Homo sapiens: one gene and its partners. The protein of the gene in region 1 purifies or fractionates together with the protein of each later gene. This does not show direct contact. Each region holds a gene or a part of one and is shown in the gene's direction. Other genes may lie near its edges.

Region 1 (3,906 bases):
AACAAGATGGGAAAGGAACTGAAAGAGATTGAGCCACCACACGAGCAATTCACAAAGGTCTGTTCTATTTGGTAACACAATACGTTCTTATAAAATACAACACATGCATAAAAATAGAAGACAATCTGCTTGTTTCTGAATGTATGGAAAGACATTTTGGTTATACATTTTAAATTACTTACCATTTTCACTTTGAATGTGTTGTTCCAGATTTAACATAAGTAGTAAATAACATAAAATAACATAAAACAGTATTTTTAGGATTCATGAATAGTTTTGTAGGAGTTATTTAGAACAGGAAAAGGTAAATTGGAAATTTTACCTAGAAATATACATCTTGTGTATAAAAATTGATACCTTATGAACACATTAATGAAGACTTTATTTTCAGTTTTTAGGAGATCAGCGACAAATCTTTAGTGGAAGGCAGAAAGTCCATAAGTCCTTTCTGGATGTCTTTTTTACTTGTGTTGTTTCAAGAGTTTTAGTTAAATAGGAAGTAGGCAAATGTAACTACTGAGTATCTCTTTTGTTTTCTGCTGTAATGTAGGAGTGTTTTATGGCATATTCACTTTCAAAATTATTAGTGACTAGTAATGGTTTTACATGACAATTTGTAATCATAAGAGATGGTTCAGATGTATAACAGAATGGGAAAGCCAGCAGATTATTAACATGTTGTGAATTGTGAATTATCTGCTGTCGTACAGCACATTAGCAAATTGTCATCGGACAATGACCGCTTCTTCATGTAGATGTATATTATTTAGGAAGCAATGGAATTCCCTTCTGGGAGGTAAGATATTCTTTTTAATAACCTTGTGGAAAGACATGTTCATATGTCACTCCTCTACACTAACTGAGATGTGTTAAATAAACTGGGAAAAGAGTTTGAAAATAGAATTTTCAAGCAACTCAAAGATTATCTATACACAAAACGGTTATTTATATAGAAGTCACAAGTAGAGAACATGTTGCTATAATGTTCCCCAGAAACCATTTATTAATTGGTATGAACATGAGACTAGAAAAGTTTTCCTGTCAATGTTAATGCTACATGTTACCACTTAGGGTAGGAACTTCGGTATCATCTTGGACTCTTCTGAGTCCATTATCTTTCACATACAGTTTTCATGAGGCAAGTTTTACTCTGCAATGGTCCTTAAATTTCTTTTTTTTAAATTGCCACTGAGGCAACCCTAGTTCAAGAACTCATTCTTCCTTGCTTGTACTATTAAACTCTTTTCTGAGTTCTCTCTTCTCTTCTGAGCCACCCTTCATTGATCAGAAATACTATCTTCCTAAAACTCTTCCCTTCCTAAAATGCTTCTAGCCCTTCACTCTTCCCAGCCTATCAGTGGTATCCACATGTCAGTTCTTAGATATTCAGAGACTCTCCCCTTTACATGACCCCCTCTTAGGCTTGTTTTACTGCCTTCTGTCTTTCTTCCCGCCTCTCCAGGTTGACAGCCTTCTCTGAACGACCTCTCCATTACTCTCATGCTTTGCTCATGCTCTTCCCTCACAATGCTTTTAAAGTCCTTTTTTTTTTTTGATCGATTGAAATCTTTTGCCAACTAAGTGGACATCAGTCTCCATTTTTGGCTACATGTCCGAGTGAGTTGCTCTTCCACAGCAGTTACATAAGTTTTGTATTATTTTTTTTATTCGTGCATATTTGCTCATGTCACAGGAATATGGAAGAGATTGTGTATTCATTTTTTACATCTTCCTCAGCATTAACATACCACTTTTTAGGGAGTAGGAACTGTTGAACTATTTGTTGAGAGAATAGTATATATTTCAAACATAGTTATGTTTTCTCTAACTTGATGAGGTCATGTCACAGACCATTTTATCCCTTCAGTGGAAACCATGTTATGTCGACTATTAGTGATAACAAATGGGTCACTATCTGGTGAAAAAATATGGTATTTCATGATCTAAGACTACCAGTCTTTTTCTGTTTTTGCTCCATCTTGACCATAACATATTCATCAAACCATTTTCTTCAAGCAAAGTACATGACTGTTGGACCTGCTATAATAATATTTCACTAAAATCTGGCATTAAAAATTTTAAGTATTTGGAGCTCCATGTACTGATTACAGTTTTTAAATTTGAAATAAATGACCAGCATCCTTTGAATATTAAAAGCTGTTTCCTTTTGACATTTAATTTACTCTCTTTAAAATGTGAGTTGTAAAGTGATGGTTTGTCAGTGAACTAGACTTTTTGTTTTAGAGTGTGAGGACTTGGAAGAGTATAATGAAAGCCCTCTTTTTGGTGAAGAGAGTCAACTTAAAAAATAAATTGCCATGTTCCAAAATAATATTGTGGTAATTGTAAGTAGTGCATATTTTATCTTAAAAACTCAGGATTGATGTAAGCACTGGAATATTTTATTTGTAGAAATGTGTATCGCAATTACTTAAATTTATTTTTTTGAAACAGCTGCAGCAAGAGTTGGCACTTATTCAGATGTATCTTCAACCTCTGTTATTCTGGTGACTGACAAAAGAACTTGAACCTATGTTATATGATACATGCATAACTTGAGCTACACTAAACCACATGACAGTGTTTAGTTAATTCTTGTATAAATTAGTATATCTCTTCTATTATTAGTCTGTTTGTTAAATGCCAGACCACGTTTCTATGATCTGTTGAATGAACCCTAGACAGTTCTGTGAGAAAGCAGCAATTGCACAGTTACATACACAGTCAATTAAATTTTAACATTAAAGATAATTTAGTTTTAGGTTTGGCCTCTGTGGATCTGTATCAGTTCCAAAATGTGGAAAGCACGGGCATGGAAAAGTACATTTTTCTCTAATAAAAGAAGACAAACCCTTATTTTATCTGTGCATTCTTTGTATTTACTCATTAAGTTAAAGAAGCAATTCCAATGAAAGCAAGACTTCAAAAAATAGATAAACTCTGTGGCCTTTCAAAATTATTAAAAGTACCTTAACATCTGTGTTCTTGAAAAAATTAAACTACTATAAATGATTGAGACAACTGAGCAAGATATATTAATATCAGTGCTGAGCCACCGGCTTCTGGGTATGTCATTTCCACAGACATCAAATTGCCATTTGGTTTGTTTTGGTCCACCATTCAGTGATATCTCCCCTTAACATTGATTCAAAGTATTTTATTAACATTTATGTATGCTTACAATTATTTCACATCTGTGGCAAGGTAAATTATGTAGGGTGCTTTGTTTTTCGAGTTTAGTATTTGTGGAGTATGTGGAAGTTTAAGTATACATGCATCTAAAAACTTAAGTGATGAATTCTCCTACCTTTCCTTTTGTAATGTGCAGTTGTTACATGTAACAACATACAAAATGTTCATTTGGAAACACTTTATTTAGTAAATATGAAATTCAGAATATATTTGGAGTAAGTCAGTTAAATGTATTCTTTTGCTGAGTTTCTGAAATTCCATTCATGAATTGTTCAAAACACAATACTCCCATTGGGAGGAGAGGAGCGACTTCCTCTCATTTTTCCTTGTGCTTTTTATTTTAATTGGCCCCTATATACCACTCTTGTTTTTCTAGGTTTTCCAAGTTTAAGAAAAAAAGAAAAACAAGTTCATTCAGATTCTGTTTTTCTGCCTGCAATCACTTATGCAGGAATAAGTGAGTCCTTATGGGGAGCATTTAATTCCTAAAGTTTGCATTTTCATAAAGGATTTTCCTTTTACCCAAAGCATGTGTTGGTGTATAAGTCTAACTACTACTTCAAGTTTCTAAGAAGATCCTCATTTGAGATCTGCAGAGGTCCATATGAGAGTTCTATTATACACACTGGGCTATATAACGGTTTATTCCATAGTGGAAGGACAAGAATTAGGACACAATGTACTTAGTGATGAAACAGTTGATATTTATGCCAC
Region 2 (4,154 bases), on another chromosome or scaffold:
TTTCTTTGCCTACTCAACCTGCAAGGAAGAGATGTCAAGTCATGTTGAATCATAACTTCTGGTTGCAGTTTTCTTTGTTTTGTTTGTTTATGTGTGTGTGTATTTACTTAAATGGAGCTTTTTGTTTCTAATCCAAATATTTATTTTTTCTCTGCAGATGGTGGTGTGGTACCTATTTCAGATTGTTTCAGCAGTGAGCTGCATCCATAAAGCTGGAATCCTTCATAGGTAAGAAGTAAAAAAAATTATGGATGGATTCTTCCCTACCAATTCAGCCCCTACCGTGGATACCCCCCCAACAACACTTTTATTTTCTTGGTTAAGCAGCCAAGAGTTTTTCCATTGATATCACTAGGAAAGGAAAGTAATGAGCAATATTATTTTCACTCCCTGAGGTTAAACCATGTTTATGATCTAGGAAGAGTCTCCTCAGTAGCCAAGTACTACTGAAGTCATTTTACAGACAAAAATTTTAGAGTTCAGTTTGTTAATTCATCAGTAAAGCCTAGAAGGGCACTATGAGAAGTAGTATTTGGTAAGAATTCACAGCAATAATAATTGGCAATTCTTTTTAATTCTATAATTAAGATCTTTTAATTTAAATAAAAGCCTCTTCACTCTGTATATTTACTTGTACAAATTTACCAGATCTTTAAAAACAAGCATGATTGCATTCATTTCTAGCTATAGAAGAGAAGCATCTCAATAACATTTTCACATCATTATGCCCTTCTTAAGTGAGTCATTGACTGGTGCCAGAGATTAATTATAATACACTAAGATTTCTTTTTTTATTGGTTTGTTCATTCAGTTAACATGTATTTCTTGATAGCTATTAAATGGCTTCTGTTGCATGTTGTTATTTTCTTTTTAAAAGTAACAAAGTATATTGTTCTGGTTTATTCGCATCTTTCAATAAAGGAAGACATAGTGAACCAGGCACAGTTATTTTGTTTTACATATGGTCAATTTATCTTTAGAAAAATAGCCTGTGATTTTATTTAGATGACTAAATGGCCTAATCATATCATTGCAGGGACATGTAGGCCTCTTCTCTTGCCTTAACAGATTATTTGAAACTTTGACACCAACCAAGTTTGTTAAAGTTGCCTTGATATCACTTAATTCAAGGCATAAGTGATAGTTGAAGAGGTGTGGTATCTTATGGGAATTATGGTTACCTAGAGCACCATTTTCCTCATCTGACCGTCTCAACTTTTCCTAATAGCTTCAGTAGTATGGGAGATATTTCTATGCTGTGAAGCCCTAGAGGATGAAGTTAATTCTCTGCCTTCACTCCTTTAAAGTCCCCACTTCAGTGTTAAATAGCATGTGAAAGTGATGACCACTGTGGGATGTTTAGGATATCCTAAATGAATGAGCAATGGTAACACTCTTTTTTTGTTTTATTTTGTTTTAGTTTTTGAGACAGGGTCTCACCCTGTTGCCCAGGCTGGAATGTAGTGGTGCAATCATGACTCACTGCAGCCTCAGCCTCCTGGGCTCAACTGATTCTCGGTGCTTTAACCTCCCGAGAAGCTAGGACTACAAGTGTATGCCACCACTCCTGACTAATTTATTTTTTGTAGAGATGGGGTCTCACCATGTTGCCCAGGCTGGTGAAGAACTCCTGGCCTCAAGCAGTACTCCTGCCTTGCCCTCCCAAAGTGCTGAGATTACAGATGTGAGCCACTGTACCCGGCCCACACTCATTTTTATTCTGTAATAATCCTGGGCAAGGCGGGGGATGAAATAAAACAATTATCTGTGTGAACTTAATTTGCAGCATCTTTTTTTTTCAGAGATATAAAGACATTAAATATTTTTCTGACCAAGGCAAACCTGATAAAACTTGGAGATTATGGCCTAGCAAAGAAACTTAATTCTGAGTATTCCATGGCTGAGACGGTATGTGTTGCCCTTGTCTTAATTTTTATTTTATTTTCTAGCACTGTGAAATATAACTGTACTCCCTAAATCTTGCATACTTTTCTCAATATTCTTGCAAGTTCTCCATACTTTTAATGCATGTCTTCAGAAGTCTTTTTCCTGGGCCCACTAGCAGGCATTTAAGTCATTGCCCACGTTACAGCTCTGACCTCATAGCCTTTTTCCAGCACTGATTAGGGACTTATCTAAAAGCAGCAAAATGCTTTACTGTTTTGTCCAGGTTAGGATCTTTAGTAGATTTCACTTTATCTCTTATTTAATGTTTGAGCTCAAGGTGTTAGACATCTCTTTGTTTTTCCTTTGAATGCTTCTGGTTCAAAGAGAACCCTATATTTCAAGTGAAGGCTGATGCTCAGAGAACAATCCATTCTTTAATATTATACACAGTCTGAACTGCACAGGGGTCCCTTCTCACATGATTTTGAGAAAGATCATTGGTAAAGAGTAGACATAAGTTGATCTTTAGGACAGTAATCTTATCCTTTTAGGAATTATAAAACCCAGTTGTTATTCTTCTAGTTTCACAATGCTCTGTCCTTAAAAGAAATTGAAAACTGATTTTGGCCAATAATTTTTTTTTTAATAATGTCAAGGTTTGCCTGCAAGCAATTTAGATGTTTAGGGTTTGGAGTCTCTGCTTCAGGGACTCAGATGTTTCTATGATGGAGGCCAAAGTGAGCTTCTGAAGAAGCAATCATATCTTTATATGGATTTTTCTCATCAAGAACAATCTGATAAAACCAAGACTTGACTTTTTTTAGCTAGTTAAATGCAAAGAAGGAATGATATGAAAATTTATAAAAGCCATGTAAGCCATCTGAAATTTGCTTTGCTTTGCTGCTTAAAGCTGACTATGAATTTTATTAGAGCTGCTAGGGCATTCATTATATCTCATCTTGGGAGAGGCATGACTTCTTAGGACATTTTTATTTCCAAATTTATTTTTGAAGTCAGAAAATCTTTTTCAAATTCAAAGGAAATTCGCTAGCTGTGTTAGTATAACAGATGCCAAATTGGGCATTTTAAAAGTTTCATTGCGCGTATTTTAGTTAGAACATCTAATTCCTTCATTGAGTTACCATCTCCCCACTGCCAGTGTTTGGATTTTTTTCCCATTGGTGAACTTCTACTAAGTATGTCTTTAAGTTTGTGTAAAGTCTTCAGTAGGCCTTGAATGCCTGAAGCCTCTGTGATCTAGGAATCACAGAGCTATTGAGCCCCTCAAGTTACCACAGTTCCTTTGTCACAGAGATTGTCCCTTTATAATTGACCCAAGAGGTTTGATATGAATAAGATTTCTTTCCATAGTGGCATCGTCTCATAAAAACCATTTTGGAATCTGCTGATGAATGTTTTATGGTTGTTATGACTAGTTCCTAGGAAATTTAATTAAGCTGTTGAAATGTTAACATAGTTACCTCAGAAAAGAAGTTATTCTTTGATTGTTTCTTTGTTGCTCAGCTTGTGGGAACCCCATATTACATGTCTCCAGAGCTCTGTCAAGGAGTAAAGTACAATTTCAAGTCTGATATCTGGGCAGTTGGCTGCGTCATTTTTGAACTGCTTACCTTAAAGAGGACGTTTGATGCTACAGTAAGTTGGCATATTATCCCCATATTGCATTTAGCAGGTTGCAAATGGTACAGCTTGACTAAGCAGATCAACTCTATTCCCAGGCTTCTGATTTCTGGCAAAAATAACCTGTATTCAGGTACAAGATTAGTAATCTATTACTAAAATGCTATAGACCCAGCCAGGCGCAGTGGCTCACGCCTGTAATCCCAGCATTTTGGGAGGCCGAGGTGGGTGGATCACTTGAGGTCACCCCGGCCAACATGGTGAAACCCCGTCTCCATTAGAAATACAAAACTCAGCCGGGTGTGGTGGCGCACACCTGTAATCCCAGCTATTTGAGAGGCTGAGGCACAAAAATTGCTTGAACCCAGGAGGTGGAGGTTGCAGTGAGCCAAGATCATGCCACTGCACTCCAGCCTGGGCAACAGAGCAAGACTCTGTCTCAAAAAAATCTCCAACTTGAATTCCCTGTTGAAATGATCACTTGAACCCGGGAAGTGGAGACTGCAGTAAGCCAAGATCGCACCACTGTACTCCAGCCTGGGCAACAGAGCAAGACCCTGTCTCAAAAAAAAATTAAAATTAAATTAAATTTAAAAGTTCATCTCTTAAAAGCAAAAAATGGAATA
Region 3 (4,154 bases), on another chromosome or scaffold:
CTTTTTCCTCCACAGAGTTAGGGAGAAATTCTCATAGATTGCCATTCAGTGTCACTCTATTCCCTAATATTAATAGCATTGACTGTTGATTTAGCTGCATAGTTTTCTTCTTTTTAATCCATAATGTATACATTTTAGACTTTGTATTTTAACTGCTGACATTTTTTAATTTAACTGCTGACATTTTAAAAAAAATAGGTTCCTGACATAAGGGATGAAGAGACATTTGGTTTAGAAGATGTGGCTTCCGTCTTAGACTGGAAGCCCCAAGGGTCTGTTAGTGAAGGCAGCATTGTTAGTTCATCAAGAAAGCCCATCTCAGCACTCTCGCCCCAGGTAGGTGGTCTCCGAGACACTCCTATTCATGAACACTGCTTATTTTCTGTGCAGTGTTACTTATTAGGATGAAAACTGGCAATACCGTTATCATTCACTGTGGCTTTTCCCCCCAGACAGACCTGGTAGATGACAACGCTAAATCTTTTAGCTCACAGAAGGCTTACAAGATTGTACTTGCTGGGGACGCTGCAGTGGGGAAGTCTAGTTTCCTCATGAGACTTTGCAAGAATGAATTTCGAGAAAATATAAGCGCCACCCTGGGTATGGCTCGTATTTCGGTTGATAATGGGAAAATGACCTTCCTTAGCTTGATTTTCTCTTCTTCAGGGATTACATACACAGATGCTCAGTTAACAGTTTTCTCTTTCTCTGTGTATGCACACATATATAAATGTGTGTGTGTGTGTGTGTGTGTGTGTGTGTGTGTGTGTGTGTGTGTGTGTGTCTCCTAGTCTATGGAAAGGTCTTTCTTGTTTTGGCCAAGGCCTGCTTTTAGGAAAGGAAGATTAAAATGACAGAGATATCTGGCTGGGTGCGGTGGTTCATGCCTGTAATCCCAGCACTTTGGGAGGCCGAGCCAGGCAGATCACTTGAGGTCAGGAGTTCAAGACCAGCCTGGCCAACATGGCGAAACCCCATCTCTACCAAAAATACAAAAATTAGTTGGGCATGCTGGTGGGTGCTGGTTGTCCCAGCAACTCGGGAGGCTGAGGCTGGAGAGTCGCTTGAACCTGGGAGGCGGAGGTTGCAGTGAGCCGAGATCACACCACTGCACTTCAGCCTGGGTGATAGAGTGAGACCCTGCCACAAAAAAAAAAAAAGAGAGATATCTGCTTAGCCAATCAGATGAATTGAATCAAATTTAGATCCTGAGATATCAGATTCATTTATTCAGCATGTATTTCCTGAGTCCCACTAAAAACAAGATGCTGTTGTAGGTACAAACGATACACCATGAAGAAGGCTGACAATCCCAGCCTGCACTGCACTTACATCCCAGTGGAGGGAAAAGGTACAAAAAAGAAGTTTAGGGAGAGGTGCGGTTTTACGCAGGGTGGCCAGGAAAACCCTTTCTGCTGAAGTATTTGATGTTGACAAAGTGACAATATGGATTGCCACTTTGTCATTATGGTCAAAATCATAGCCAGATATATGATCCGTTACCCACCTTCACAACAGAACAATAGAACAAGTAGTATCCTGATTTCCCAAATTTGCATAATAGTAAAAGGAGTTGAAGATATGCAAATTATCATTTATTTTTCTTCTTCGTCTAAAGAGTTCTTATTTTGATCACCCGAAATGTTAGAACAGACTGATTGTCCTCTTCACATGAGTGTCTTTGTAAATTTATGGTTCTCTGATACACTCTTCAACATTAACAAAGCTGAAAGTTTACTTCAATTTGATTCATAAAAAGACTACATACAGTATTTGGTTCAGTTGTCAGAGACCATGATGCATGTAAATGTGTGTGTGCACTAACGTGTGTATATATACACACGCATATGTATACATGTTTAGATATACATACATTTATACATATATACCTACATATACATATACATACATGCATATACACAAAACACGTATCTGCACCTACACACATACATACACACACGTATACACCTGCACATTCATGCATGCCCACTCATACACACATGTACACACACCCACACACACACACACACAAATATGACTGAGTTCATCCAGTCATCAGGGAAAATAAAACAGATTTTTCCCTTGGCTCATAAATTAAATCATTCCCCAAGTCAGCCAACCTGCAGATGGTGCCTCTGCACACACGTGTGGTCTGACTTGTCATTCCTATTTGAAGGTCACTCTCCTTAAAGGTCATGTTCATTCCTCCCTCCCTGGCTGAGCTGTGTATTATTGGCTTTTGCTTCATCTAAAGAAGGCTTGAAAGTAAAAAGCCAATGGAATTATTTACATCGTGCTCTCCACTCTCACATTCCTTTTCAGGAGTTGATTTCCAAATGAAAACCCTCATTGTGGATGGAGAACGAACAGTTCTGCAGCTCTGGGATACAGCTGGTCAGGAGAGGCAAGTGCATTCCGCAGCGCTATGGGATATCCTGGGTTTGCATTAACAAGCCTTGCAGGCCACTTGATGTTCTTCATACTCAAAATTCTATAATTATAACATACTTTATAATTATATGCATAATTACATGTATAATTATAAAATGTATTATAACTTTAAAATGCTTATATTCTCGCACATCTCCTTCATTTACCTATGACTCCTGTGAGAAGAGGATCTTTAAGCTTCTTTTGAGCTGATGTTCAGTTGAGACAGAGAGTGCCCTTTGCTAACATGAGAGGCAGCATTTTTGAGTGCAGTGACAGCCTGAGGAACTCCCTGGCTATAGAACAATAAATGATGGAGAAGAGAACCAGTCAGCTCCCCTTGATTAAGGGCAGAGGCACAAACCGCATAGCAGACTTGCATTTGGTGATGGCACTTTACCTTGCATTCATTACCGATAAGCAGAGCATTAAGCACAGATTTTAATCTTGTTTAACTCCTTCGGAACAAAATCCATTCAATTGTTCAACCCGTAAGTATGGGGTGCCTGCCTCTGTACCAGGCATTATTCAGCATGCTGAGATTCAGTGGTGAACAGACAGGCACAAATACCTGCCCCCATGGTGCTCATATTCTCTAGCAGATTGGGAATTTCAACATATAAAAAATATTTGTGGTTGACATGACTGTATTTAAAATACTTATAAAATATTGCACTGGGTTTCAAGTTAGGGCATGTGTGTTGAGGTGTTCTCTTCCCAAGGTGAATCTCCTGACCCCCATGTATGTAAAGTCCTGGTATGTTACAGCGTTCCACACTGGTAGTTCCTCCATCCACCCACAATACTCCCTAACCACCACCACCACCAAAAATAAGTATTCTCTAGTTCGTATCTCCTTCCAGCCTCCTCTGTGTCCCACATGTGGGTTCTGGTAGCTTGTTGCTGAGGTTGAAATTTTTGGAAACTGTGCTCTCAACCTTTCCCTGGTTGTGCTCTGGGGATTGTAGACATTCTTGGGGTTGTTTGGTAGAGAGAAGGATTGGATTTTCTAAGTCGGTCACCCAGATTCTCATCATGTTACCTTTCATTGGGTCATTCGAGACCTTTGAAATGCCTATGTCTCAGTCATATATTGCAGTTAGAGTCTTCTCAACTGGTGTTGATTTTAGAAGAGGAGAAAAAAATGAGCATAAAAGAGAAGAAGAATGAGGCAACACAAACTGACTGATGATGTGGTTTTCTCTTTCTCAGATTCAGAAGTATTGCCAAGTCTTACTTCAGAAAGGCAGATGGTGTTTTGCTGCTGTATGATGTTACATGTGAGAAAAGCTTTCTTAACATACGAGAATGGGTAGATATGATTGAGGTAAGAAATCATAATGGAGAAACAGAAAATTACACGAGGAAGTTTTAGGCCATCTTGGAAAATGCTGTCTCTCTTCTTTGTCAGAATGAACTTGATTAGGAACCATTGATCCAAGCCATCAGGAAGAATTGGATGCTACAGGCAGAACTGGCAGCATTCATCTCTTCCTCAGGATTTGGGCACATTTCCCTGAAGCCAAGGACACTAATGAAGGGAGCTTTGGGGAATAAAACTTCTAGGTTTTCTTATAGATAAAATCAGAATCCCATCGTAAGCAAGTAAAAATCCAGGTAGCCTAGGAAGAAGTTATTACAAACAAGGAGATGGTGTGGTTGGTTGTGTAGTGTAGTTGGGGGCATGTGGGGGCATCCACGGGCATGGGAAGTACAGGTGAAAC
Region 4 (4,625 bases), on another chromosome or scaffold:
CCCAGACTGAGTGCAGTGGTGAGAACATGGCTCATTACAGCCTCAGTCTCCCAGGGTCAAGTAGTCCTCCCCACCTCAGCCTCCCAAGTAGCTGGAACCACAGGCGTGCGCCCCCAAGCACAATTAATTTTTTTTTTTTTTTGAGATGGAGTTTCGCTCTTGTTGTCCCGGCTGGAGTGCAGTGGTGTGATCTTGGCTCACCGCAACCTCCACCTCCTGGGTTCAAGTGATTCTCCTGCCTCAGCCTCTCCAGTAGCTGGGATTACGGGCATGTGCCACCACACCCGGCTAATTTTGTATTTTTAGTAGAGATGGGGTTTCGCCATGTTGGTCAGGCTGGTCTCAAACACCCGACCTCAAGTGATCTGCCCGCCTTAGCCTCCCAAGGTGCTGGGATTACAGGTGTGAGCCACCACGCCCTGCCAGCTAATTCAATTTTTTTTTTGTAAAGATGAGGTCTCCTCGTGTTGCCCAGGCTCGTCTCGAACTCCTGGGTTCAAGAGACCCTCGCAATGTAGCCTCTCAAAGTGCTGAGATTACAGACATGAGCCACTGCACCCAGCCAATTTCTCTTTCTAAAAATAATTAATTTTTTTGAGACAGTCTCACTCTGTCGCCCAGGCTGGAGTACAGTGGCGCGATCTGGGCTCACTGCAACCTCCTTGTCCTGGGTTCACCCACTTCTCCTGCCTCAGCCCCCCGAGTAGCTGGGATTACAGGCGCCCACTAATATGCCCAGCTAATTTTTGTATTTTTAGTAGAGATGGGGTTTCACCATGTTGGCCAGGCTGGTCTTGAACCCCTATCAAGTGAACCCCCAACCTCGACCTCCCAATGTGTTGGGATTATAGGCATGAGCCACTGCACCGGCCTTATGCCTTTAGGACTCTTATTTATTTATTTTGAGACGGAGTTTCACTCTTGTTGCCCAGGGTGGAGTGCAATGGCGCAATCTCGGCTCATTGCAACCTCCGCCTCCTGGGTTCAAGCATTCTCCTGCTTCAGCCTTCCGAGTAGCTGGGATTACAGGCATGTACCACCACGCCCGGCTAATTTTGTATTTTTAGTAGAGATGGGATTTCTCCATGTTGGTCAGGCTGGTCTCGAACTCCCGAAGTCAGGTGATCCGCCCGCCCACCTCGGCCTCCCAAAGTGCTGGGATTACAAGCGTGAGCTACCGCGCCCGGCCCCAGAACTCTTTTTTTTTTTTTTAAATCATGAGTTAGATTGATAGTTTTCAGGGCAAATCCAAACAGTCTACATTAATTTCCGTCTTTATTTCGTTAAGGTTTCACATGGACACTGGTGGATATGGAATGGCTTTTTTCTGCGCAATTCACATCCGACCAGGTCAAGTGACTGGAGTTCACCGGTCTCGGGTATACCGCATCTCGCGCCAGGCTTCAAACTCTAGATCCCCGAGTCTCGAGCTCCAGCTGGGTGTCGAGACGGGTACGGGCCGGCCGCGCCTCGCGCATGCGCCCTAGGCCCGCAGGGCCCCGCGCTGGAAGCTCAGCTCCCACTGTACCCTGCTTTAACCAGTCAGGCAATTCATCTTCCCCAAGCTCCCAATTCGGCATTGCCTGGAGGCGGAAGTGGGTGGGAGGGGCCAGACGTGCGCCCCTCCCCGGAAGTGGGCGGTACCCATAGGGCTCCACAGTCGTTCCGCCACCTCCCAGTCGGGTTGCGGCGGAGGCCGTTCCTGGCTTTGTAGCTCGCTCAAGATGGCGGCGCAGCCACCCCGCGGGATACGCCTCAGCGCGGTGAGCAGCCGCGAGGGGTGGAGCGGGCCGTGTCCCAGGAGGGCGGGCGGGCAAGCGAAGGGGGGCCGGCAGTGGGCGGTGGCGGCTTGTGGGGCCGACGCGGCGGCGGGGGCTGCGGCGGGGCCCGGGGAGGGGGCGGCCATCTCGCTCCCGTCGGCGGAACAGCTCGGCTGCGGGCCGGGCTGCGTTCCGTCGCCTCTGCATTGTGTTTCTGTTTTGCTTCGGGGCGGGCCAGGGTCGCGGCTCCTCCTCCCAGCTCCCTCCTAGTCTCCCAGCAGCTGTCGTCCGCGGGCGAGGCCTCGGCGGGAGATCGGTCTGCTCTCGGGGCCGCGGGGCCCCTGACCCTCTTCTGTCCGCTGGGCGTCGTGGTGGGAGGGAGCGGGTTCCGCGTCCAGAAACGCCGGCGGCCTCGACGTCCCGGGGGCGGGGGGACGGGGCTGCGGGCCTGCCTGCGGGCGAGTGGAGTCAGGATGAGTGTGCCTGATGCCTGTCAGTGCCTGCAGCTTCCTTGGCAGTGGAAGCCTTGGGGCCCAGACCCTAGATCGCTGAGCTCGAGCTCTCCTCTTTATCCCGCGTTGCGTCTGTTTTGGGGCGTTTCGAGTTCTTGGAAACCCTGTGAACATTTCTTGTATCTTAAATCGTAGGGAGCGGTCACACAAGATAACTTGAAATCTCACGTCCAGGAAATGTGGGCGTGGCTTCCCCACCTGATTATCCTAAAAAACTTTTCTACCTTGTGAGCGCAGTTGATGTTATGCTGAAATGTTCCTCTTTTCTGGAGGTTGTTGACTTTTGCCAAAGAATGACTGCCCTAGTGCCACTAATTTTAACATTCGAATGGGTAGTGACTCCTTGGGGTACAAACACGTAGTGAATAATTGGTGCATTGCTCTGGGACTTTCATTCGTTTAGGCAGATTCTAACACCTGGTTTTGACGGACTTTAAATTTTTTCTAGTCCGATATTTGTGAAATGATATTTGCTTTTACTTGCGTTTCCTTGACTGTTTGTGTTGTTGAGCTCTTCGCATGTATTAGTCTTTGTGGTTTTTTGTTTTGTTTTTTTGAATTGCCTATTCATATCCTTTGACCATTTTCTGTTTTTCTTTTGGGAGGATCTTTATTGATTTGTAAGAGTTCTTTACGTATTCTGGATAAAGGTCCATCCTTTCGTTATGTAACTAGCTTATTGAGTGAGCTAGGCTTTAGTAGTTTGAAAATAGAGGACAATTTTATTCTTTTTTTCTTTTTTTTTTTTTTAACCACTGAGTGTAAACATTAATTATTCCCCACTTGTGTGAATCTGGGTTGACTAACGCTTTCCCATTAGCTTAAGGTATTGTAAAGTCTGGCCTTACCTAGTTTAAAATCTCTATTCTCTCTCCCTCCCTTTTCCCCCTCTCTTTCCCCTATCTCCTTTCCCCACTTCTCTCTCCTTCCTCTCTCGAGGTTGAGTCTTGTTCAGGCCCAGAAACCTGTAGTGGAGAAACGGAGTGAGTTGATTTCCTGTTTCTGTCCTTTGATTCTCTTCTCCCTTCCCGCCCCCAGGCCCTTGTAGACTCTGGCTCTTCAAGATTGAGGGGAGAAAGGAAGCAGAGATAATGGTCAGTGTTTAGAGACCAGCATTGTTAGCGGGCACTCTGGGTGTAGCTGCTGTCCATGTGCTGGGTCTTTGTTTTGTGGGTAATATGGGCTGTTGGGAACCTGACTGACAGAAATCTCCCATCTGCAGCCTCTTTGCTTTTGCTTTAGGTCAGGAGTTGGCAAACTACATACAGCTCATGGGCCAAATCCAGCCCAGCACCTGTTTTTGTGTGGCCTGAAGGCTAAGAGTGATTTATACATTTGTAAATGGTTGAGAAAAAAAGAAGAATGTTTAGTGACATAAAAATTATGCGAAATACAAATTTCAGTTTCCATAAAATTTTATTGGAATATAGCCAGAAACATTATTTGCTTATAGTTTTCAAATGCATGCGTTAAGAGATAAAAATTAATGAGCTTATGTATTTGTCAAAAGTCCTACATTTTAAGGCACAAAGGGTGAACCCTTAGTGTATACACTTTTTTATTTTATTTTATTTTTTTGAGGTAGAGTTTCACTCAGTCTCCAGGCTGGAGTGCAGTGGCACGATCTCGGCTCACTGCAGCCTCCACCTCCCGGATTCAAGCACTTCTTCTGCCTCAGCCTCCCGAGTAGCTGGGTTTACACGCGTGGGCCACCACACCCGGCTAATTTTGGTATTTTTAGTATATATAGAGTTTCACCATGTTGGCCAGGCTGGTCTCAAATTCCCAACCTCAGGTGATCCTCCTGCCTTGGCCTCCTAAAGCACTGCGATTACAGGCCTGAGCCACTGTGCCCGGCCCAATGTATACACATTTTAAACAGTCATTTAGGAGGTCGGAGATCCCAGGATGAAATGCAGAGTGACAAAAAGTTTTTAAATTTTTTGCTTTTTACCCCTGTAATTCTAGTGAAATGAAATGCATATACTTTGGTTTTTGTTGTTGATTTTTTTTTTCAGAAATGCTGCTGTGGATTTAGCTGATGCACACTCTTCACCACCTCCCATACTTCAATGCTTTTTTCACTTTTTTTGGTTGAATTACTATATGGTTTGTTATTACTCTTACAAATGAGCTAGCCAGGGTAGTATGATTGCATTTTCTTTCCTATACAAACCTTTTGTTTTCCCTGAAGTTAATTGATTTATATTTTGTTTTCTTAGTTTTTCTCTGTACTGATCATCCAGACATCCAGAGAACTGGGAGCTCTTTTCCAGATGGATTCAGACACACCCAGTGTTTTGTCATTTGGAAGTCAGTTGGGAGTCATCGGCTCAGTCGTAATTTGGGGACT
Region 5 (4,154 bases), on another chromosome or scaffold:
GTTAATGCCTCTTATAAGCTTTAATACACTTTAAAAAAATAGTAGTTCTGTGACTAAACTGCAGCAGAAGCGAACAGAAGGTAATTGCCTGAGAGGATCATCTGTCCTCCACATGCCTCCATTTTAGTCCAATATTAAAAATTTAATCTCATAGAAAGTCTTGACTCTACTTTGAATAGTGATAACTCCTTACTCTCCTAGTCAGCCTCCCTTGGTTGGGGAGAGGGTGGATTCGATTAACTGTCATTCCAAATTACTGAATGTGTTTTATTTGGAGCAGTTAAAAAGTTTTGCTTGAGAATGATAACTGGAGAACCATAATATGTATAGGGTTTGTACAAGACCCCAAAATAGCCTTGTGCAAATTACTTTGTCTTGTCTGATATTTTATGTGTAAAATTGGGGTTAGGACAACGAATATTTCAGGTGGTTTTGTGAATTAATGAGATGTTATCTAAAGCATCAAGTATAGTGCCCAGCATGTAGTAGATACTAAGTAATCTAATTCATAGTGATAGGGACAGTAGCCAGAGCCAGGATTTAGGGCAAGGCAATCAGGCTCCTAGGGCGAGGAATTTAATGGGGCACTAATTCCCAGCGATGAACTCTGTACTTGCATGAATCAGAGGAGCGCCTCAGATTTTTCACGATCAGTGTCTTGCTTCCCTCACTGTAGTTCCTGCCCTAGTATTAGCAACAGATCAGTTTTATCACCTTTCTCTGTTTAAGCTTTATGTATCATTAAATAAATATTTAAAAGCTTGTTTTTTAGTTGGTTTCTTGTGTGTAGTAGACATTGTCTCACATTGAGGTCCTCTCAGGCTGAGGTGTATTGACTGAGGCAGCGTATTGACCGAGGCAGCATGTTACTTGCTTTTGGGCACTTCCACACACTTGTTTCTCTCTGTCCTATGTAGTAGCATCCTTTTAAGGGTATTTTAGTGTGTGAAGTACATGGAGGACAGATGCCCCTCTCAGGCCGTCACCTTCCCTGTTCTCTTCTGCTACAGTTACTTAATTATAGGACTACTGTTTAATGAAAAAATGTATTAAAGCTTGTAAGTGGCATTAACATATTCAGGTGGATAGTTAATTCCCAGTGGAGAATACCAAATGAGTATTAGATAATCCAGTAGGGATGAGAATTTGTAAATTTTGAATTTTTGAATTCTTTAGAACTGACTTTAAAATGTTAACATAAAAGCATTCTTATTTGTTAGAAATAAAGGACCTTGTTCACAAAGTCTCATTATTTAGTTCGATTTTTGGAGGAGATATTTGGACATTTAGTAAGAGAGATTAGGAATAAAAATGCCTTTTAAATGTATAAAGTAAAATAATAATTTTAGCTTTTCTGAAAGGGAAACTTGCTGCTCTTGACATTTCTCTAAAACAATTATTTGTAACGGTAGGAGACTGGTATATATATTATTAGATTGTTACATGATTTCTTTTTCCTAAAGCCTTGTTTTCTCTCAGGTGGAAGAACTCAGTAAAATACTCCAACGTGGGAGAAATGAAGATAATAAAAAGTCTGATGTAGAAGTACAAACAGAGAACCATGCTCCTTGGTCAATCTCAGGTATTTAGCTTATAGTGAGGATATGCTAACACTGTTACATTCAAATCATGCTAATGTTGCGTTTTCTTTTAATTTAAAATAAACAAAGATCAAGGTAAATGAGAATTGTTAATACTGTTGACGTCTCTCCATATGATAATGGTATTTTCGGATAATCAATTTGTTCTTCTGGAGGAAAAAGTAGAAATGTATTGTCATTCCTGTGATTTCTATAATGTTGCTAATGTTTTCAGTGGCACACTCACTGAGTAATTTTTGGCAGGCAGTTAGCCATCTACTTCCATATCTGCCTTCCTTGTGACCAGGGGCATTTGTTTTCTTGTTGATGTGTTCTAATTAGAATTATGTATAGTATCAGTCTCTCACCCTTGTGGGAATGGTGAGCCCACCACCATGGCCTTATGAATGGCATTATGTTATAAGGCAAAATAGCTGAGATACTGAGTTTTAATATATATGTGTCACAAGAAGAAATCATCTTTCCTATTAAGTTTTGCCTTGCTTCAGTCAGGACATAATTTTTGGCTAAATTGCTAAACATAGCAATAGTGCTAACTTTTCTTATCTGCATGATACGTTTTAAAAAGTCTGCATGGGGAGAGAAATTTGCCAAAAAATAAATCAATCCCTAATTCCTTGCCTTTATTTCATTATCAGTTGATAAGCAACAGTATTAAGGTATCCAGTTAGAAGTTAAGAGTTAAGTTTTTTAAATAGAACACAACCTATCTACAGATTTTTATTTTACTCTTGCTGTAGAAAATGTAACCAACTTACCTTTTTTTTTTCTTTTTAACTGACAGCTAGGGTCTTGAAGGAGACATTAGAATCAAAGATACACACTTCTGCAGATTTATCTGTGCCATCTGTTTTAATCTTTTAAAATTTGTACAGTTGTAAAAATCATGATTTATTTGAAGTATGTGCTTTTTGTGTTTAAATGCCAGTGTTTTGTAGTTAAGTCCTTTTTATATACATTATTCTAATATGATACGATTTCACTTCATTTTTTTGCTACAGATTATTTTTATCAGACGTACTACAATGACGTTAGTCTTCCAAATAAAGTGACTGAACTGTCAGATCAACAAGATCAAGCTATCGAAACTTCTATTTTGAATTCTAAAGACCATTTACAAGTAGAAAATGATGCTTACCCTGGTACCGATAGAACAGAAAATGTTAAATATAGACAAGTGGACCATTTTGCCTCAAATTCACAGGTAATAAAATGCTAAACATGAAACTGTTGATGCCCAAGAACCTGTCCTTCTTTGTTGTTATTATGTGGAAAGATAGACTTCTTTGGTCCGTCACAGCATATATAAGGGTTATAAACATTCTTATGTGTAATTATGCAAAGAATGTTGTAGTTTTTCCAAAACCAGAATTAGAACTTCTTCATATATGTAGTGGTTTTCCTACTACATTGTGTTCCAAAATTTTGTGATCTACATAAACTAAAACAAAATTTGTCCAGATATTTTGACTGAACAAAAGAACTGTGGACAACAATACCACATTTACACCTAAAAAAATTTTAATGTTCCTTTATGTCAGATACCCTGCCACTATTCAAATTTCCCTGAATCTATAAATTTGTTTTTATAGTTTGTTTGAATTAGGATCCCTATTGTGTTTGATATATCTCATTTAATCTACAGTTTTCTCCTTCATTTGTCTTTTTGAAATTTTTTTTCCAATTGAACATATAATCATTGAAGAACCTAGATCTTTGTCTTAGCCAATATTTCAGGGTCTGTATTTTGTGGATGGCTTCCCTGTGGCATCATACATTTATTCTCGAATAATTGTCACTCATTTTTAGTGCCTTCAAAACTGGGTCAAAGTTGAAGTTACTGACACACTAGTAAATGTTGTAATAAGTGGTTCAAGTCATAATTGATAGTCATGCTTTTCCTTTGTAGAAATTGAAGTCGTTACTTAAACATAGTCTCAGGTCTTGAGTTCAGCCAACTTTTTAATTGATATACAGAAGCTTTTGTCTTATTTGGCATGACTATATCTTTTATAGGAGCCAGCATCTGCATTAGCAACAGAAGATACCTCCTTAGAAGGCTCATCATTAGCTGAAAGTTTGAGAGCTGCAGCAGAAGCGGCTGTATCACAGACTGGATTTAGTTATGATGAAAATACTGGACTGTATTTTGACCACAGCACTGGTTTCTATTATGATTCTGTAAGTATCTCAGACCTTTTTGTTTTGTTTTGTTTTTGAGACAGTCTCCCTCTGTCACCCCGGCTGGAGTGCAGTGGAGTGATCTCAGCTCACTGCAACTTTCACCCCCCAGGTTCAAGTGATTCTTATGTCTCAGCATCCCAAGTAGCTGGGATTACAGGCATGCACCACCACACCCTGCTAATTTTTTGTATTTTTAGTAGAGGCAGGGTTTCGCCATGTCGGCCAGGCTGGTCTCGAATTACATCTCAGACCTTTTAATACTGTATGATACATACTCAGTGCCTGATATCAAATATTAAACCCTAAGCCGAAGTAAGAAAGCAAAAAGCTGCATTTAAAATTATATTTGACTCAAAACTATTTGACAGA
Region 6 (4,154 bases), on another chromosome or scaffold:
ATAGGAAGTGCTAATATCTACATGGCCTAATTGCCCCCCTCCTCTCTTCTCACCAGCCTTGGTAAAATCAGACTTCCTTCTCTCTCCTGGGAATATATGGCCCATCGCTAGGCCCCTAAGTCTGATGTCTGCTCTGAAGAGTTGATAGTGGAGAGAAGGAACATTACCCAGCCTGTTATTTCTTCTCTGTCTGTACCTTCTTCCCGTGTTATCATTTCTGTTCCCATTGCTTTAAATATCCATTTTGTGTAGGCAATTCCCAAGTGTAAATCTTCAGTCCTTAGTTTCTGCCAGAACTTCAGACCGACTTAAAGACATCTCCATGTGGGGGGGGGGGGGGGGGTCTTAGCATTCCAAACTTAACATTCCTAATATAAAACTCTTTTTTTTGTCCTGAAAACTTGTTTTTTAGTAAGTTTTTCCCATCTCGTTACGTGGAAAGGGGAACTGATTGCCCAAGTCAAAAACCCAAGAGTATTTTTTTTAACTCCGCTCCTTTACATTGAGTCTGTCGGCAAGTCCTGTCTGTGCTGCTTCTAGAGTGCATCCCACTCTTCTACCTCCCTCCTTGCCTTTCTTACCACCCCAGTCACTTCTCGCTTGAGCTGCTGCCTGAGAAGCTTCCTCACTAGTCTCTCTGACTTCCACTCTTTTCTACAGTGCATTCTTCACACAATAACCAGGGTGAGCTTTCAAAAATGTAAATTGGATTGTGTCCTTCCCTGCTTAAAAGCCTTCCGGACTCCCAATTGCCCACCTTGTCAGTCATCCCTTTATCTGTTCACGTCTGTTACATGGTGTTTCTGCACTGGAATGGAAGATTTTTGAGACCATGGGTATTGGCTGTATCATTGCATAATTCCCAGTATCTGGTGTATAATAGTTGTGCAGTAAAGACTTCCTAAGTGAACAAGAACATGCTCTTATTCTTATTTCTAATACATTTTTCACTCCCCCACGCCGACCCTTTCTTTTTTCCTTTTTTGTAAAGGATGAGCTTTGGAGGATCCAGGAGAAGCTGGAATGTTACTTTGGCTCCTTGGTTGGCTCGAATGTGTACATAACTCCCGCAGGATCTCAGGGCCTGCCGCCCCATTATGATGATGTCGAGGTAAGAGATGGAGAAAATTGCCCCATGTTGGGAAGAATGAGTTGTTGAGAGCCTGGTTTAGTAGAGTTGTCAGGGTGAGTTCACATTATTCTCTAAGGCTCTTAGGTCTGTATTCGCTCTTTCTGTGCAGTTTCTGAGATATTGATTTCATCAAAATGTTGGGCCAAAGTAAATCCCACTAAACTGGTTTCCTGCTCTGTCTCAAAGGAACAGCTTGTTTCCAACCTTACTAATTTAAAGAGCCACACATTCGTCTGAAACAAGTATTTATTGAATTTATCTACAGAAAGGTGTGCTTGGCTTTTCCTTTAATTTCACAAAGTATGGTCTTTAATAAGATGAGGTCACAAATAATCCTTCATGTGCTTTCATTTTGTTCTTTTTCAGTAGCTGCCAAAAATATGTATATATTTTCCATTTGTGAAAATCTTGGGGCAGCTTGAATGAGGGTCATGGTTTCACTTAAGCATTGGCATCTTGACAAGTGTTGATTTCACTCTGATATGGCTTCCAAAAAAATTTAACTCTTTGGCTTATGTATTCCATAGTTTTATTTTTGTCCTAATATAAGGTGTAAACACAGAGTTATTGGTAAAAAGTCCCCTTTTTCTCCTTTGATAGCAATTTGACATCAATACATTTTCACAAAATGTTATTTTTAATATTTTTAATAGAATATCTTTGACTGAATAAAGAATAAAAAACTCGAAGTTTTCCTATCTCCCCAGGCCCTTTCAACATTCAGGATTTAGACATTCAGTAATATCTGAAGCTTGGCTTTTCCATCAGAGATTATGGGCTTTTAGCTGTCTGATAGAAGATTTAAAGGAATGAGATAGTGGGATATAAAGAACTCAGCGAGGCTCTAAGAAAGTGAAAAGAATGAATATCCAGTGTCAGGATTCACGATTCCGTTTTTAAAAATAAAACCCAGTAGTGGCAACTTTTGTTTAACTGTGGAATGACATGCATTTCTCATCTTTCATTTTTATTTTTTATCGGAAACTTGACCCTTGTGCAGTGTGGGGGTTAGTGGTGCCAACACCTCATGCAGTCAAAAATCTGCTTGTAACTTTTGACTTCCCTAAAACTTAACTACTAGTAGCCTTCCATTGCCTAGATATCTTACTGATAGCATAAATTGGTTAACACTTATTTTGTATGTTATATGTGTTATATACTTTATTCTTCAGTAAAGGAACCTGGAGAAAAGTTATTAAAATTATAAGAAAGGGAAAAGTATTTTTAATATTGTGTTTATCAGTACCGTAAGTTTACATCATTTGTTTACAAGCTGAATCGTCCATCTGAAATGGTGGGTAGCCACAGCTGCAGGCCTTAATCTACAATACACATCAAGCAATTCAACTTTTTCTTGTAACGTTACGACTTTTTTCTGTTTCTCGGGAGTACTTGCAGTAGCAGTAGTGGCACATCATATGGGTCCCATGGTGTTATTCACGGCTTAAGTTGTTGCACTAAACATGATGAAAAATACACAAGAACTGTTGAGAGATCATTTTTTACTGTGATACACAATTCACTGGAGAGAGGAACTGCTCATGTGGAGATAATTAGCATCACACTTGAGCTCGTGGCAATAGCAACAGGAGGTAGCACAAAATTATTACAGTAGTACAATATGTACTAAAGTTAATTTTATTCAGCTATTCCATATTGCATCTTTAAGTTTGTTTACATTTCTTGACTGCAAATGGTGGTCTAGAAGTATTTGTATAGGTAAGTTTTGATAAATTTTAACCTTCTGTAATAGATTTGTGAATATTTTATGGTAGTAGATGATAGACTAGTATCTACATATGTTTTTATATTTGATGCATTTATGACATTCTTAATTCTTTTGATATTTTTCATGTTTTTCAAATTGTTGCAAATCTCCTCCAAATTTTCCAATATAATTTATTGAAAAAAATCAGCATATAAGCGGACCTGCACGGTTCATCCCCATGCTGTTAGGCCAGGCGTGGTGGCTCACGCCTGTAATCACTTTTGGAGGCCCAGGTGAGAGGAGTGCTTAAAGCCAGGAGTTCAAGACCATTCTGGGCAACAAAGTGACACCCCATCTCTACAAAGAAGATAAATTAGCTGGGAGCTGTGGTGCATGCCAGCTTCCCAACTACACAGGAAGCTAGGGCAAGAGGATCATTGGAGCCCAGGAGTTTGAGAGGCTGCAGTGAGCTGTAATTGTGACACTGCACTCCAGCCTGGCCAGGAGAATGAGACTGTCTATAACAACTAAAAAAAAAAAAAAAAAAAAAAAACCTGTGTTGTTCAAGGTTCACCTATATATTTGTCTATTAGCCCCTTAGAGGGCTAATAGTCCGGAAGCACTTTGTGTGTGAGTTGTCAGGAAGCTCTCTGATGCTCCTGGGCCTTGTGGGTCTCTAGGTTTTCATCCTGCAGCTGGAGGGAGAGAAACACTGGCGCCTCTACCACCCCACTGTGCCCCTGGCACGAGAGTACAGCGTGGAGGCCGAGGAAAGGATCGGCAGGCCGGTGCATGAGTTTATGCTGAAGGTATGTGATAACCGTTGTGGGCACCTCATTGTTAGAGCCATTGTGGTTTCCCCTATTGCTAAGACAAGTTCAGGCTCAAGGTTTAGAGTTCGTGTGATGGTCCCCGTGGGAATATATCCCTGGGTTTCAGGGCAGGGTGCTTCTCATTGCTGTCAGCCAGCACATGTAATTTCTGAAGGAGTCTTGGTGGTTTGCACTTGGAGAAGTGGGTTAAGGAAGTATTAAGTTCATTTCCCAAATAACCTGTTTTCATGTACAGTTCAAGTCCAACAGGAAGAAAGAGAATTCAGTGAACCACTGACTCCTCTAGAGGAAAAATGGAAGCTCTGGCCTTGGGCAGCTTCTCCACATCCAAGACGATGGTCAGCACAGGGCTGGAAGTTGCTTAGGCAGAACATAGCCAGGGATCCCTTAGTTTTTTTTGTTGTTGTTGCTAAAATTCCAGTGTGACTCATTTTCATCCTGGTTATATGTCAGGCTATCTCTGTGCCCCCTGCATAGTTAC
Region 7 (4,154 bases), on another chromosome or scaffold:
TGCATGCACGTGCGTGTGCATGTGTGTGTGAGAGCTGAGAAGTACAGTTCTTCAGCAGCTTGGCATATGCAGAAACTGCACATTCTTGGAAAGAAGTAATCTGCGTTATAATTTAATTGCCTTCTAGTAGATTTGCAGAATCATTTAGAAAATGAACCTGCCTTTGTCAATTGGTTTGTAAAGACCTATTGATTATATTCTTGAAAGATAGTAATATTGTCTTTCCTTTAGTGGGTATTGCCAGAGCTTTTGCTTATGAGTTTCATTTTATTTGATCAGGTTCAGTGATATTGATTTGGTATCCTTGCATGCTTTGTGCTAGGGATGTATGAAACAAAATGCTTTTGAGAGGTCATGAATTGTGATTCAGTAATAGTTTAGAAAGTTTAGGAATTCTATCTATTGGGGCTTCAGTTAGCATGTTTTTGTAGTAGAAGTGGGAATTACTGAGTTTAGGTTAGATAATTTTTATCAGAAAAGTCTTGAATTGCACTGTGTAAATTCTCACTGACGTTGCATCTTTTCTGCAGAATACAAAATACTTTGGAGCTATATATAAGAATTAGAAAACATGGTTCTGTTTTCAAGGAGTTTATAATCTGATTAGGGAGGCAATGAAGGAAGAAACTGAGTAAAAGAATAAAGAGCTCTTAAAGCTTGTGTCTTGTCTTTGTAAAATCAATTTTGCCACATTGGGCTTTGGTAAGGTGTCATAGGTCTCTCCTGAGGGACAATATGAGAAACATCTAACCCTTTGAAGACTGGTGGTTATGTGTCTCCTATATTTTGATCATTCTATGGGGTTCTTTTTGCTATACGAAATTACTGTTTGGTTTAACTACCAAGGTAGCTCCCCTTCTGAGTACTTCTCTGTGTATCTCTTAGATTGCCTGGGTTTTCCTTTTTGTTATGGCTACTAGAAAGCCAGAACTAGATTTGTGGCCCACTCCATACCGTAAATAGGTTTTTATATTATACAATTTTTAGCCTTTTTCTTGGCACCATTTTTGGTTCTTTTCTCTATTCTTTGCCTTTATCTTTAGTTTGTTAACTTGTTATAGTTCATTTATTGTGTCTTTAATCCTTTGCAGAACAAAATGGGGTATATACAAATGTAGGCATACCTCTAAGATATTGCCAGTTCAGTTTCAGACCACCACAGTAAAGCAAATATCTCAATAAAGCAAGTCACACGATTTTCTGTTTCTCAGTGCATATAAAAGTTATGTTCACACTGTAGTTTACAAAATGTGTGATAGAATTATGTCTAAAAAATGATCTACGTATATCTTCATTTAAAAATACTTTATTGCTTAACAGTGCTACGGATCCTCTGAGCCTAAGTGAGTTGTAATCTTTTTGCTGGTGGAAGGTCTTACCTTAGTGTTTATAGCTACTGATCAGGATGGTTGTTGCTTGAAGTTTGGGGTAGCTATGGTAATTACTTTCTTGCCTTTTTCTTTTTTTTTCATAAGGGCAGCCCCCTGAACCAGAATAGGTTCAAGATAGACTCCCTCATTCTATGACATAGAATGAGATGTGTCCTGATTTTAAATAAAATTGAAAAAAAAACAACAACCCACCAGTGAAGTATGCCACATTGATGGACTCTTCTTCTCATGAAAGATTTCTCTGTGGCATGAGATGCTGGGTGGTAGCGTTTGAGCCATAGTAGAACTTTCACAATTTGAGTCAGTCCTCTCAAACCCTGCCACTGCTTTATCAACTAAGTTTATGTAACATTCTAAATCCTTTGTTGTCATTTGAACAATGTTTATGGCACGTTCACTAGGAGTAGATTCCATCTCAAGAAACTACTTGCTTTGCTCCTCTGTAAGAAGTGACTGCTCATCTGTCAGTTTTTTTTTTTTTTTTTTTGAGGTGGAGTCTCGCTCTGTCGCCTAGGCTGGAGTTCAGTGGCAGGATCTCAGCTCACTGCAACCTCTGCCTCCCGGGTTCAAGTGATTCTCCTGTCTCAGCTTCCCGAGTAGCTGGGACTACAGGCTCCTGCCACCATGCCCGGCTCATTTTTTGTATTTTGAGTAGAGATGGGGTTTCACCGTGTTAGCCAGGTTGGTCTCGATCTCCTGACCTCGTGATCTGCCTGCCTTGGCCTCCCAAAGTGCTGGGATTACAGGCGTAAGACACCGTGCCCGGCCCCATCTGTTAAAGTTTTATCTTGAGATTGCAGCAATTCAGTCACATCTTCAGGCTCCACTTCTAATTCTAGTTCTGTTGTTATTTCTACCACATCTGCAGTTACTTCCTACACTGAAATTTTGAACCCCTTAAAGTTATCTATGGAAGTTGGGATCAACTTCTTCCAAACTCCTATTCATGTCAGTATATTTTGACCTCCTCCCATGAATCACAAATGTTCTTAATGGAGTCTAGATTGATGAATCTTTTCTAGAATGTTCTCAATTTACTTTGCCCAAATCCATCAGAGAAATCACTATCTATGGCAGCTATAGCCTTTGAAATGTATTTCTAAAATAATAAGACTTGAAAGTCAAACTTACTCCTTGATCTGTGGGCTACAGAATGACTTTTGTGTCAGCAGGTATGGAAACATTAATCTCCTTGTACATCTCCATCAGAGTTCTTGGATGACCAGGTGCATTGCCAATGAGCAGCAATATTTTGAAAGGAATCTTTTTTTTTTTTTGTCTGAGCAGCAGGTCTTAATAGTAGGCTTAAAAGATTCAGTAAACCATGCTGTAAGCACATATGCTGTTATCCAGGCTTTGTTATTCCATTTATAGAGAACAGACTGAGTAGATTTCAGTCAGTTCAGAATGGTAAACGAGCATCGGCTTTCACTTAAGGTCACCAGCTGCATTAGCCCCTAACAAGAGAGTTAGCCTGTCCTTTGAAATTTTGAAGCCATTTACTTCTCTCTTGCTATGAAAGTCCTAGATGACATCTTTGTCTAATAGAAGGCTGTTTCATCTACATTGAAAATCTGTTGTTTAATGTAGCCACCTTCATCAATTATCTTAGCTAGATTTTTTTGATAACATACTGCAGCTTCTACATCAGCACTTGCTGCTTCATCTTGCACATTTATGTTATGGAGATGGCTTCTTTCGTTAAACCTCATGAACCAACTCCTACTAGCTTCAAACTTGCCTTCTGGAGCTTCCTCACCTCTCAGCCTTCATAGAATGGACTAGAACTAGTGTCTTGCTCTGAATTAGGCTTTGGCTTAAGGGAATGTTATGGCTGGTTTGGTCTTCTATCCAGACCACTGGACCTTTCTCCATATTAACAATGTGGCTGTTTCACTTTCTTATCATTCGTATGTTTTCTGGAGTGGCACTTTTACTTTCCTTCAATAACTTTTCCTTTGCATTTACAGCTTGACTAACTGTCACAAGAGACCTAGCTTTTGACCTCTGTTGTCTTTAGACATACCTTCCTGAGTAAGCTTAATCATTTCTAGCTTTTCATTTAAAGTGAGAAATGTGACTCCTCCTTTCACTTTAATATTTAGAGGCCATTGTAGGATTATTGATTGGCCTAATTTCAGTATTATTGTGTCTCCTGGGATAGAGAGGCCTGAGGAGAAGGAGAGAGACAGGAGAAGCCCCAGTCAGCGGAGCAGTCAGAATACACACAATATGTATTGATTAAGTTCGCCATCTTATATGGGTTTGATTCATGGTGCCCCCAAACAATTACAGTAGTAACATCAAAGATCACTGATCACAGATCACCATAACAGATATAATAATAATGAAAAAGCTTGAAATGTTGTGAGAATTACCAAAATGTGACACAGAAACACAAAATGAACACATGCTGTTGGAAAAATGAGCTGACAAACTTGCTCCACTTAGGATTATCACCAACCTTCAATCTATGAAAAATACAATATCTGCAAAGCACAATAAAGTGTATTAAAGTGAGATATGCATGTAAATATACCTAAAATTCATGGCAAATATATCGAGGCAAACAGATTAATATAGTGGGGACTAGATATGGCAAGTAGGTTTTATTTCATGGGCTAGCTTTGATTGATAGTGAAGACTGCCTGGAAGACTGCATTGAGAAGTTAGTTGGACGCAGCTTCTGGATTAGTGGGAAAGGATACTGTGATCATTGAGCAGTGTTTATTGTTATGAGTAGGAGTAGTGATGGCGTTAGTG

The links.
Region 2: the proteins of FAM9C (region 1) and NEK9 purify together in Homo sapiens (co-immunoprecipitation; one large-scale study listed by IntAct). This does not show direct contact.
Region 3: the proteins of FAM9C (region 1) and RASEF purify together in Homo sapiens (affinity purification with mass spectrometry; one large-scale study listed by BioGRID and IntAct). This does not show direct contact.
Region 4: the proteins of FAM9C (region 1) and MORC3 purify together in Homo sapiens (affinity purification with mass spectrometry; one large-scale study listed by BioGRID and IntAct). This does not show direct contact.
Region 5: the proteins of FAM9C (region 1) and AGGF1 purify together in Homo sapiens (affinity purification with mass spectrometry; one large-scale study listed by BioGRID and IntAct). This does not show direct contact.
Region 6: the proteins of FAM9C (region 1) and RIOX2 purify together in Homo sapiens (affinity purification with mass spectrometry; one large-scale study listed by BioGRID and IntAct). This does not show direct contact.
Region 7: the proteins of FAM9C (region 1) and SESTD1 purify together in Homo sapiens (affinity purification with mass spectrometry; one large-scale study listed by BioGRID and IntAct). This does not show direct contact.

The regions. Positions count from the first base shown.
Region 1 is NC_000023.11:13,034,567-13,038,472, reverse strand, and holds the end of FAM9C (protein FAM9C), read left to right. Parts: coding exon 1-32; 3' UTR 33-57; exon of another isoform or gene 58-2,454; 3' UTR 2,455-2,856; downstream 2,857-3,906.
Region 2 is NC_000014.9:75,116,584-75,120,737, reverse strand, and holds part of NEK9 (serine/threonine-protein kinase Nek9), read left to right. Parts: intron 1-157; coding exon 158-228; intron 229-1,802; coding exon 1,803-1,908; intron 1,909-3,411; coding exon 3,412-3,543; intron 3,544-4,154.
Region 3 is NC_000009.12:82,996,615-83,000,768, reverse strand, and holds part of RASEF (ras and EF-hand domain-containing protein), read left to right. Parts: intron 1-198; coding exon 199-336; intron 337-452; coding exon 453-600; intron 601-2,322; coding exon 2,323-2,404; intron 2,405-3,642; coding exon 3,643-3,757; intron 3,758-4,154.
Region 4 is NC_000021.9:36,318,541-36,323,165, forward strand, and holds the start of MORC3 (MORC family CW-type zinc finger protein 3), read left to right. Parts: upstream 1-1,656; 5' UTR 1,657-1,724; coding exon 1,725-1,763; intron 1,764-4,625.
Region 5 is NC_000005.10:77,032,939-77,037,092, forward strand, and holds part of AGGF1 (angiogenic factor with G patch and FHA domains 1), read left to right. Parts: intron 1-1,479; coding exon 1,480-1,582; intron 1,583-2,602; coding exon 2,603-2,805; intron 2,806-3,617; coding exon 3,618-3,782; intron 3,783-4,154. UniProt on the Homo sapiens protein: Promotes angiogenesis and the proliferation of endothelial cells. Able to bind to endothelial cells and promote cell proliferation, suggesting that it may act in an autocrine fashion.
Region 6 is NC_000003.12:97,958,546-97,962,699, reverse strand, and holds part of RIOX2 (ribosomal oxygenase 2), read left to right. Parts: intron 1-991; coding exon 992-1,111; intron 1,112-3,520; coding exon 3,521-3,649; intron 3,650-4,154. UniProt on the Homo sapiens protein: Oxygenase that can act as both a histone lysine demethylase and a ribosomal histidine hydroxylase. Is involved in the demethylation of trimethylated 'Lys-9' on histone H3 (H3K9me3), leading to an increase in ribosomal RNA expression.
Region 7 is NC_000002.12:179,254,536-179,258,689, reverse strand, and holds part of SESTD1 (SEC14 domain and spectrin repeat-containing protein 1), read left to right. Parts: intron 1-4,154. UniProt on the Homo sapiens protein: May act as the primary docking protein directing membrane turnover and assembly of the transient receptor potential channels TRPC4 and TRPC5.